Linked DNA regions of Homo sapiens: region 1 is linked to region 2. The links come from fine-mapping of genetic effects on gene expression. A gene starts in region 2. The other region holds a variant in brackets. All regions are shown on one strand. Distances are from middle to middle.

Region 1 (5,366 bases), 25 kb before region 2:
ACCTCTTCTCAGGTCTCCATTTCCATTCTGTTCTACTCACAGCATCTGGAGGGATTCTGTTAAATCCTAAATTAGGCCACAGTCCTCCTGTGTCAGAACTCTGCCCTGTCGCAGGCTGGGCGTGGTAGCTCACGCCTGTAATCCTAGCACTTTAGGAATGCTAGACTTGAACTCCTGGGCTCAGGTGATCCTCCCACCTCAGCCTCCCAAGTAGCTGAGACTATAAGTGTGAGCGACCATGCCCAGCTCACTTTATTTTTTCCATTTCACTTATTATTGTCACCCTATGTTATACGAGATAATCCACTCATGCATCATGTTCGCTGTGTGAAGTCTATCTCTGCTTCAGTATAAGCTCCACAAAGACAGGGATCTTTGTTTTGCTCAATATAGTTTATCACAAATGGCTAGAACAGTACCTGTTAAGGGACTATTTTTTTGGTTGGAGGAAGGAGACTGTAATCTCTTTGGTACCTAACCCAGTGGGGGCAAGGTCAGGTATATCTTCTCAGCAGAGGCAGCTGGGATGAAGCTGGCTCCAGGAAAGAAGAAAAGACATAAAGCCAGGACAAAGGCATAACAGCCCAACCCCTATCTGAGGGCGCCACCCATGTCAGACCCCCTCTCCTTTCTGTGTCTTTTGTCTCTACAGGTCAGTGAAGCCCAGGAGGACCTGGGGGGGGCAAGAGCTCAGGAGAAGGCCTGCCCCCCTTCCCACCCCTATACCCTAGGTCTCCACCCCTCAAGCCAGGAGACCCTGTCTTTGCTGTTTATATATATATATATTATATATAAATATCTATTTATCTGTCTGAGCCCTGCCCTCACTCCACTCCCCTCATCCACTAGGTGCCCAGTCTTGAGTGGGCCCCCTCTCTTACCCCGTCCCTTTCCCTGCATCCCTTGGCCCCTCTCTGTTTACCCTCCCTGTCCCCTGAGGTTAAGGGGATCTAAAAGGAGGACAGGGAGGGAACAGACCTCGGCTGTGTGGGGAGGGTGGGCGTGACTTCAGACTCTCTCCTCTCTCTCCCTCCACTCCTCCCAACTCTGGCCTTGGTTCCTCCAGCAATGCCTGCCTGAACAAAGGCCGTTAGGGAAATCCAACTCCAGGGTTAAAGAAAGGCAGAGATTGGGGGGGCTTGGGGTAGAGAGGACAGTTTAGGACCCAAGGTGGTCTTGGAGAGGAGGTGTGGAGTGGAGGGGTCAGCAGGGGGGTTGGGTTCCAGACAGAGTGGATCTGGAGTCTGAAGGAGAGGAGTGCGCTAGAGCATTCTGGGGTGGGGCTTGGAAGGGCGCTGAGGGCAGGGTTCTAGAAGGGGCGAGGCTTTAAGCGAGGCAGAATGGTGGGCTCCAGAGTAGGTGGGTCTTGGATTGGTACCAGAGCCTATGGAAAGGGTGTGGCTTGGAACATTTGGGAGACTGAGCTTGATTCTAAAGGGGACAGATCTTGAGCAAGGCAAGAAGTGGGATTCAGGAATGGGCCAAGCCAGGGTTCCAGACAGGGTGGGGCTTAGAATGGGGCTTCCATGGTGGTTTCAGAAAGGGCAGCCCCTCCCCATGGTGCAGTGAAGAAAATGTTTTACAATGGCTGGGTTTGGGCAGTGGAGAGGGGACTTGGATAGGAGCTTCCAGATGGGTTTTGTTAGGGGTGGGGGAGAATGGCTCTGGCTACGACTTGGGACGGAAGTGGCCTGAGAAGAGTCGAGTGATATGGCTTGTAGGGTGAGGCGTGGGATCCAGAGAGAAGCACCCCACCACACACACCCTTCCCCACTCCCGTGATGAAACAGCTAGGTTAATAGGAGGACAGAACCAACGGGTCTGTGGGACTGGCCCACCCCTCTTCCCCCTTCCCCTGCGCCCTCCCTCCCTCCACACCTCCACCCGTCCTGGGGTGGTTGGAGGCCTGGTCTGGAGCCCCTATCCTGCACCCTCTGCTATGTCTGTGATGTCAGTAGTGCCTGTGATCGTGTGTTGCCATTTTGTCTGGCTGTGGCCCCTCCTTCTCCCCTCCAGACCCCTACCCTTTCCCAAACCCTTCGGTATTGTTCAAAGAACCCCCCTCCCCAAGGAAGAACAAATATGATTCTCCTCTCCCAAATAAACTCCTTAACCACCTAGTCTACCCGGCTCTGATTTCTCAGTGTGTCTTTTTCGGGCGCCGGGGAGGAGGTTGGCCGGGGGAGAAAGGAGGGAGAGGTGGTGAGAACAAGCTCCACCCGGACCCACCGACCGCAGTTCAGCTTGCTGCACCATTTCAGGCCCCTTCAAAAGTGTTAGGCAGAGCAGCATCCTCTGGGAAGCCTCTCCTGCCAATCACTCTGTCACTCTCTGAGTAGCCCTGCTCACCCTCCCACTACTGGCCACCAAATGCCCGGTCTTTCTAGGAGTTGGTTCTAATTCTGGTCCCTTAGCCAAGCCTCTTCCGAGCCCCTGTGGAACCCTCTCCTCAAATCCCCAAGGGGTCCGAATAGGAGGAAACCTCACATTGCCTGACCCCATCCCTAATCTTCAGACCCTACTGTCTCTCCTTTCCCTGCCTCCGCCCAGGCTGGAGAAATGGGAGACAGGTTAGGCAAGGAGGGGAGGTGGGGCGCCGGGGTGACTCCTTAGTTCATTAGTTATTCTCTTTTACCTCTCCACTCCACGGGAAGTGACAGGGACATGTGTAATGGGGGGCGGGGAGAGGTCCCCGGGGCCCGCGATGAAGGGCCTGGCCGCTGCAGTCTCCGTGCATAGAGACCCGGGCCGAGTTCTGACTGAGGCCATGGGACCCCCTCCCCCCAGCCCGGAGGCACAGCCAAGCCTGAGAGCGTGAAGGAGAGGCTCCCCGCCCTGGAACTGAGCTGGGGAAGGGGATAACTGGAGAGAGAAAAATGTGGGTGGGGGAGGGAAGGCTTTAAGATCTACTTCTCAAGACTTGGGGTGGGGGGACGGGGCTGGACAGCTAGGCTTATAAGGATGAGGGGA[G/A]AGAGGGGACGAGGGCTTTGGAACCTGGCCTCGCTGAGAGGGGAATGAGAAGGGAGGAGTGCGTATAAGATCTAGCTCTCTGGTGGCTAGGGCCAGGTTCCCAGGTTCCCAGCGAGCACCAGCTGGGGCTGCGGGTGAGGTTGGGGCCCATTGTTGCAGCATTCATCGGGGAGACCCTCGGAACCTCACCAGTGGGGAGGAGCCAAGAGGTGTCTTTAACCCCTCTCCCAAATAAGCATCCGAAATAAATCGACACAAAACGTCAACACAAGCACCCTAGCGCGCCACCCCTCTCAGTCCAGTTGGCCACCTCTGAGTCTCCCCATCCTCCACTACAGAACCTTCAAGCCCCAGGTCCCGTGAGAGGCCACGTGGCACGCCGGGATTCTGGGGGTCGTGCCTTGTGACGCCCCGCACCGGCCCGGAGCGGGAGGGCAGAGGCCTTTCCCGCGGGGCACTCCGGGCTACGTGCAGTTCACCTCTAGGCAGGGGGCGCCCTGGCAGCGGAGAGACCACATGCCCGGGGGCGGGCCCTGCGGGGCGCGCTCCTCCCACGAGGGTGTCAGGTTTACGGAACCGAGTTCCCAGGCCGGACGCGCGGTGGCCTGACGGTCGCAAGGATTACATTCGCCTGACCCGGCCCGGCTTGACCCTGCCCGGGCGCGCCATGTTCGCGCGTGGGTCCCGGAGGCGCCGCTCCGGGCGTGCGGTGAGCGGGAGTCAGGGCAGCGGTGGGGGTCGGGGGTAAACTGAGGCCCAGGCAAGGGGGCAATGGATAGGCATAGCGAATAGGTGCCCCACAGAGGATCTGGGAATCCCATCCCCTGCATTCCCAGACCTGGGGCTGGGGCTGCTGGAGGCGAATGGATGGAGGAAGGTGTAGATCTGGTGGCCCAAACCCCCTAATCACCTCTCCACACACTTTCATCAGCACTCCTGGGACCTGGTGGGGACCCCTCTCTTATGAATTGTGGGAGGGAATCCTGAGGGCCAGAGAACTGGGTCTTGAAGCCTTAGGTTGAGCAGGAACCTCCTGAGCTGCTGCTTTTTTTTTTTTTTTTTTTTTTTGAGACTGAATCTCTGTCACCCAGGCTGGAGTGCAGTGGCGCTATCTCCGCTCACTGCAACCTCCGCCTCCTGGGTTCAAGCGATTCTCCTGCTTCAGCCTCCCATGTACCTGGGATTACAGACGCCCGCCACCGCGCCCGCCTAATTTTTGTATTTTTAGTAGAGACAAGGTTTCACCATGTTGGCCAGGCTGGTCTCGAACTCCTGACCTCAGGTGATCCGCCCACCTCGGCCTCCCAAAGTGCTGGGATTATAGGCGTGAGCCACCGAGCCTGGCCGACCTCCTCAGCTTCTAAAGGACACAGTACCTTGGAGGAATGTGCACGGAGGGATGGAGTCCTACACTCCTGGGATGCCGAAATGCTGAGAGTCAAGAGACTGGGATTTGGGGGGACAAGGCTTCCAGGGTTCCGCCTGAGCAAGGGAGTTTTTGACTTCTTAGATAGGAGGTTCTTTCACTTCCTTTGGAGTGGGTCTCTGACCTGGGAATGTGGGGTCTGGGTTTGATGGTCCGGAGAAGGAATAAATAGCCCTAGGATGGGATGGGTAAAGGCCAAGGTTTCTTGGGATGGGGGTTTCTGAATGGAGCAGGGGCCTCCTGAGATCCTGGGGAGGGTCCCCAGTTCCTTGGGTATCAGGGCATGAGGCCAGGGTTTAGGGGAGGAGCTCCTGAGCTTCTGAAGAGAGGGGCAGGGTTCACGTGGGGATCTCAAGGAAGAATGCGGTCTCGTCTCCTACCCTGTGGAACTGGAGTGCTGCTGGCGGCGTAGATGGAGAGGGAACCGGGATGAGGCCGGGGAGAGGATGCCCAGAGTAGGGGTTCTGTGCTCTAGTGGGGAGAGTACAATGAATTATAGGGGAGGTGCTTGAGCCCTGGAAGGATCTAAGGCTGGTGGGAGGTGTCTGAGGCTAGGGGCGGACGGGGAGGGGGGTCCGAGGCCAGCCTAGGAAGGGGAATTCCCTGAAAAGGGGACATATAAGGAGGTGGCTCCAACTGCCCCGCCTCTGCCTCGGTTGTGTCCCGCTCCCCCGCACTCTGGGCGCTGTCCCAGCCTGCCCAGCGCTGCCCAGGTAAGACAGGCCCCAGCGTGCGGTCGCGGGCAATGAAGTGGAGGGGCGGGCGTTGACTTCTCCTTCCCTGCTTCCGCGCCTCACCCGGCCCTGCATCTGCCCCCGCCCACTGCAGCCTCCAGAGGCAGAGGACCCAGACCGGGGCCAGCCCTGCAACTCCTGTAGGGAGCAGTGCCCTGGCTTCCTGCTCCACGGCTGGAGGTAAGTGGCGCCCCTAAAGGGCCTCGCCTTTGTCAGAGCTCCGCCTTCGGGGGGAA
Region 2 (5,327 bases):
AGAGGCCGACGAATAACCAGGTGGAGCTGGGGGCCTCCAGCTCGGATCCGCTCCACGGCCTGGGCATGGGTGAGGCCCTGCGTTGACTCTCCGTTGATGTGGAGCACGAGGTCCCCGACCTGGAGGAGTGCAATGCAGTCGTGTTGGAAAGGCAAAAGGAGAGCACCCCAACAAAGGCAGGGATAGCACCTACCAGTGGAAGGGGCTTCAGGGCTCACCTCCAAACGACCACAGCGCTGTGCTGGGCCATCCTTCAGCAGCCCGCGCACGGCCAGCGGAGTGTCCCCAGCTACATCCCGGCCCCCACCTAAGGTGAGGCCAAAGCCTGCGTAACCGCGAACCAGCTCCACAGAGAAATGACCAGAGGCCTGGGATGGCTTCGGAGCACTACGTGCCTTACCCTGGATCAATTGGGGAGGTGCGTTACATGTCTCTAACCAACGGTGCTGGAATAAAGGACACAGGTGTACATAGTTTGCCCTGAGGCAGGAGGCCTCCGATAGAAGGATGAGATGGTACCTGGGGCCGGTGATCCACAATAGTGGCATGAGGCAGGCGACTGTCTGTGACCTCTATGTCCGCAGAGTCCAGCACGCTAACAGCTGGGAGATAAAAGCAGTGGAGAGGGCTGTTGGGGGACATGCCATGGAAACTACCTAGGACCTGTTCCCTGAGTTAACATTCTAGCCTCATCTACTTGTCTTGCCCCTGCAGCTCATATACAAACTGGCCCACCATTTACGCACCATCCCCTCAAGTAATCTTAAAGGTTCTCAGCCCAAACAAATTAACTGTTCTGACCCCACCTTCTTAATAAACAATCCTGGGCTCAGCCATGTGAATAATCTTCCAGGCCTTCCTATCTCCCTCTAATAACACGCAGAACACATCCCTCAAACAACACCATTCGGCCCACCCTGGAGAATGCTACTCCAAAATTTGGCTCCTGAACCTTCCATAGCACGCCCTCTAATTAGCCTCTAACCCTCATCCCATTCCTGACATCTCAAGCCCCGCCCCCATGGGACTATAGGCTCCACCCCCGTGACTCACATTTCAGGCCTGCCCCTTCGCTGCGTGCCCGCCCCCCAAGCACTCTCCAGGCCCTGCCTCCTCAAAAAGGACCGCCGCCAGAACGGGGGTCCAGTTCCGCACTCTCATCTAATCTAGCCCTCGCCGACTGCAATAACCCTCAAGGAATATGCTAGAATAACCCCAAGGCTCCTCCCACTCGAAGCACCCTCCGATCCCCGCCCCAAGTCGCGCCCCTTGGCCCCACCCAAGACAGGGCAGTAGCTGCTGACCCCCCAGGCCTGTCCCACTGAACCCAACTCCTCTCCGAACCCTCCCCCAGCGGAGGCCCTGCGCCAGTCACTCACCCTCCTTCCGGCGCAGGCGCAATGTGGCGCCCGCCCTGCGTACCAGCGCTGCCACGTCGACCGCAGCTCGCGCCGCCAGGGGGCGCGCGTCCAACCGCGCCAGGAGCTGCCGGGCGCTAGGGCCCGCGAGCGGGGAGGGGCCGCGGCCTGCGCGCAAGAGGGGACAGGTCAACGCCGACCCTCGGCCTCGGCCAACCCCTATGCTTCCGGACGCTCGAAGACCTAGAAATGCCCCTCAGGATACCCGGCGACCCCTGGCCACTCCCTCGATAGTTTCGGAGGTCACTGCTGTCCCTCCCCTCACGCGATCCCCGACCGTCGCGGGTAGCCGGTGCACCCCCGCTTGCTCCCACGGTGTCCCTGGAGATCGCTGTTTGACTGCAATAGTCCTAGACACCTCCGAACACCCCGTGAGGTCCTCGACTGCCCCCTAATCACCCTGGATGCCCAACTCTTCGCCCGCGATATCTCAGGGGACCCCATTTCCCCAGATATCCTGGGAGAACACGGCCTGACCCCATAGCCCCGGAACCCCCAATTCCCCGTCTAAGTATCCTAGGCAACCGCTGCTACCCCCATGAATTCCCTCAGAGGGCCCGTTCCCCCCATGGCCCACATACCTCCAGAGTCCCCCTCCACAGGTCCCCAGGGGCCCCCAGCTCCCCTCCCCCCAGTTCACTAAGACCCTGAGTGCCCAGGTGTCCCCAGTGACCACGGGCAGACCCCTCCCCGCACATCTGCACGTCTCCCTGGAGACTCCTGAGAGCCCCTCCCCTGCTCTGGTGCGCGGCCCTTTCCCTCGTGTGTGGGTGTGGGTAGGGGACCTCCAGCCCAGCCTCCATCGCTGGGCCCCTGCCCCCTGCCACCTTCACTTGGGCGCCAGAGCCGCTCTGTTTACCACCTGTCAGAAGGAAAAGGTGTGGAGCAGACAGGCGGGACGGGGATGGCGGCGACTCGCCCTGTCCTTCCCCAACGACCCCAATCCCTGTACCTCCTCTGCTCCCCCTAGGGTCCGCGGCGTCCCCTGTGCGCGGCTCCATGGCCAGTAGTCCGCCGGGTGGACGCAGGGCTGCCAGCTACGAATTTTGAGCTCTGGGGCGCGCTCACCTGGCGGCCCGCCCAGGCCCTGGAGGCTGAAGCTGGCGGGTCCCGTGCCTGGCTCCCGGACCCGCGCGGTGACCTACCTGGCGGCCAGCAAGGAGGCCTGGCTGTAGGAGCCAGGAGGAGTGCTTGGCCTCACTCTGCTGCAGGCGCCGCACTCTGTTAACTAAAGGTCCTAGTTAGAATTTAAAAGCCTGACAATACCAACTGTTGCTGAAGATATGGAGGAAATGGAACTCCTATACCTCCGGTGGAAATGTAAAATGATATTGCAACTTTATTTATTTATTTAGAGACAGGGTTTCGCTCTTGTTGCCCAGGCTGAAGTGCAATGGCACGATCTCGGCTCACTACAACCTCTGCCTCCCGGGTTCAAGTGATTCTCCTGACTCAGCCTCCTGAGTAGCTGGGATTACAGGCATGCACCACCACGCCCCCCTAATTTTGTATTTTTAGTAGAGACGGGGTTTCTCCATGTTGGTCAGGCTGGTCTCGAACTCCCTAAAGTGCTGGGATTACAGGCGAGGCCCGCCTCAGCCTCCCAAAGTGCTGGGATTACAGGCGTGAGCCACTCGTGCCCGGCCTGCAACTTTAGAAAACAGTTTGGTAGTGTCTTTAAAAACTAAGCGTACACATATGAGCCAGCCATTCCACTCCTGCGTATTTATCTAAAAGAAAGCATACATTTACACAGCCTTGTCTTACAAATATTCATAGCAGCTTTATTTCCTGTCTTATTCATTTAGAACTACTGTAACAAAATATCGTAGACTGGGTGGTTTAAACAACATAAGTTTCTCACAGTTCTGGAAGCCGGAAAGTCCACGATCAAGGTGGTAGCCAATTTGGTTCCTGGTGAGGTCTCTCCTTTTGGGTTGCAGATGCTTGCCTTCTTGCTGTGTCCTCACATGGAATTAAGAGAGTGAAGGAGAGTAAAGGCGTGAGAGAGGCACACACAGAGAGAGGGAGAGATCTCTCTCTTCTGTTTCTTATAAGGTCACAGTCCTATCTGGTTAGGGCTCCACCTTAGTGACCTCATTTTACCTTAGTTGCCTCCTAAAGAAGCTATCTTCAGATACAGTCACATTGGAGGTTAGAGCTTTAACATATATATTTATGGCTGGGCACAGTGGCTCACGCCTGTAATCCCAGCACCTTGGGAGGCCAAGGCGGGTGGATCACCTGAGTTCAGGAGTTCAAGACCAGCCTGGCGAACATGGTGAAACCCCATCTCTACTAAAATATACAAAAATTAGCCAGGCGTGGTGTCAGGTGACTTAATCCCAGCTACTTGGGAGGCAGAGGCAGGAGAATCATTTGAGCCCGGGAGGCAGAGGTTGCAGTGAGTGGAGATCGAGCCATTGCACTCAAACCTGGGGGATAAGAGCGAGACTTCTCTCAAAAAAACAAAACAACAACAACAACAACAACAAATATATATATATATATATATTTATGGGTGGACACAATTCAGTCCATAATATTTGTTAATATCCAAAAACTGGAAATAACCCAAATGTCCATTAATAGTTGAATGAGGCCAGTAATCGCAGCACTTTGGGAGGCTGAGGTGGGAGGATCGCTTGAGCTCAGGAGTTGGTGACCAGCCTTGGCAACATAGTGAAAGATTGTCTCTATTTTAAAAACATAGAAACATTGTCTCTATTTTAAAAATGCTAATGCCTGTAATCCTAGCACTTTGGGAGGCTGGAGGTGGAGGCAGGAGGATTGCTTGAGCCCAGGAGTTTGAGACCAGCCTGGGCAACATAGTGAGACCCCATCTCTCAAAAAGAAAACAATTTTCAATGAAAAAAATAGATGAATAAATTAACAAACTATGGTATACACATACAGGGTAATACAACTCAGCAATAAAAAACAATGAAGGATTTGGATGAATCTCAAAAATAATTATGGTAAAACAAGCCAGACCCACGCTCCAAAAAAGCACATGCTGTATGATTTCTTTTATATAAAAATCTAATAAAATGCAAACTGATATACAGTGACAGAAAGTGGATTAGTGGTTGCCTGGAGGGAGGGGGCCAAAAGGGCAGGAAAGAGGAAATACAAAGGGCAGGAGAAAACTTTTGGCAGAGATAGTTATACTCAGTATTTCTTTTTTTTTTTTTTAAGTGACAGGGTCACATTCTGTCATGCAGGATGGATTGCAGTGGCACAATCATAGTTCATTGTAACCTCAAACTCCTGGGCTCAAGGGATCCTCCTGAGCAGATAGGACTACACATATGTGCCACAATGCCTGGCAAATTTTTTACATTTTTGTAGAGACTGGGGTGGGGGGGTCTCACTATGTTGTCCAGGCTGGTCTTAAACTCCTGGCTTCAAAAAATCCTCCCACCTCTGCCTCCCAATGTGCTGGGATTACAGAGGTGAGCCACCACACCCAGCCTGTTCAGTATCTTCACTGTAGTGATCGTTTCACTGACATAAACATATTCAAAACCTATCAAATTGAAGTCAATTATATCTCAACCCCTTCAAAACTTAAAACAGCTGGGTGTAGTGCATGCACCTGTAGTCCCAGCTACTTGGGAGGCTGAGGCACGAGGATCACTTAAGCCCAAGACTTAGAGGTTACAATGAGCTGTGATCATGCCACTGCACTCCACCCTCAGTGACAGAGCAAGACCCTGTCTTTAAAAAAAATAAAATATAAATTCTCAAAACAGGCTGGGCATGATGACTCACGCCTGTAATTCCAGCACTTTGGGAGGCCAAGGTGAGAAGATCACTAAGGCCAGAATTTTCAGACCAGCCTAGCCAATGTAGCAAGACTTTGTCTCTAATAAATAAATAAATACAATCTTTTGTTAAATTAATGAA

Alleles and levels. Positions count from the first base shown, and alleles are read on the strand shown. Sizes are in standard deviations (SD) of each study's normalised expression.
As copies of G replace A in region 1, the expression in spleen of the gene that starts at base 2,551 in region 2 goes up (moderate effect, 0.48 SD a copy in GTEx).

What was found. PIP is the estimated chance that this variant, and not a neighbour inherited with it, causes the effect. A credible set is the group of variants that fine-mapping cannot tell apart.
Region 1: its variant is the best candidate, but not a certain one, in a credible set for the expression of MAGIX in spleen (GTEx, PIP 0.66).

What each region holds. Positions count from the first base shown.
Region 1 is chrX:49,184,569-49,189,934 of GRCh38, reverse strand. PRICKLE3 (prickle planar cell polarity protein 3) reads left to right here and starts at 3,562. Exons shown (of 9, transcript NM_006150.5): 1 at 3,562-3,679; 2 at 5,225-5,310. The coding sequence starts at 3,638. It overlaps SYP (synaptophysin), which reads left to right. Exons shown (of 7, transcript NM_003179.3): 7 at 653-2,120. RefSeq lists silencers at 3,440-3,569, 5,341-5,366 and cis regulatory regions at 3,263-3,803, 5,163-5,366. The variant G/A (reference allele first, on the strand shown) is at 2,971.
Region 2 is chrX:49,159,982-49,165,308 of GRCh38, reverse strand. It overlaps MAGIX (MAGI family member, X-linked), which reads right to left and starts at 2,551. Exons shown (of 6, transcript NM_024859.4): 1 at 2,371-2,551; 2 at 1,380-1,526; 3 at 520-602; 4 at 219-446; 5 at 1-119. The coding sequence starts at 2,419. RefSeq lists a cis regulatory region at 862-1,362 and a silencer at 1,463-1,572.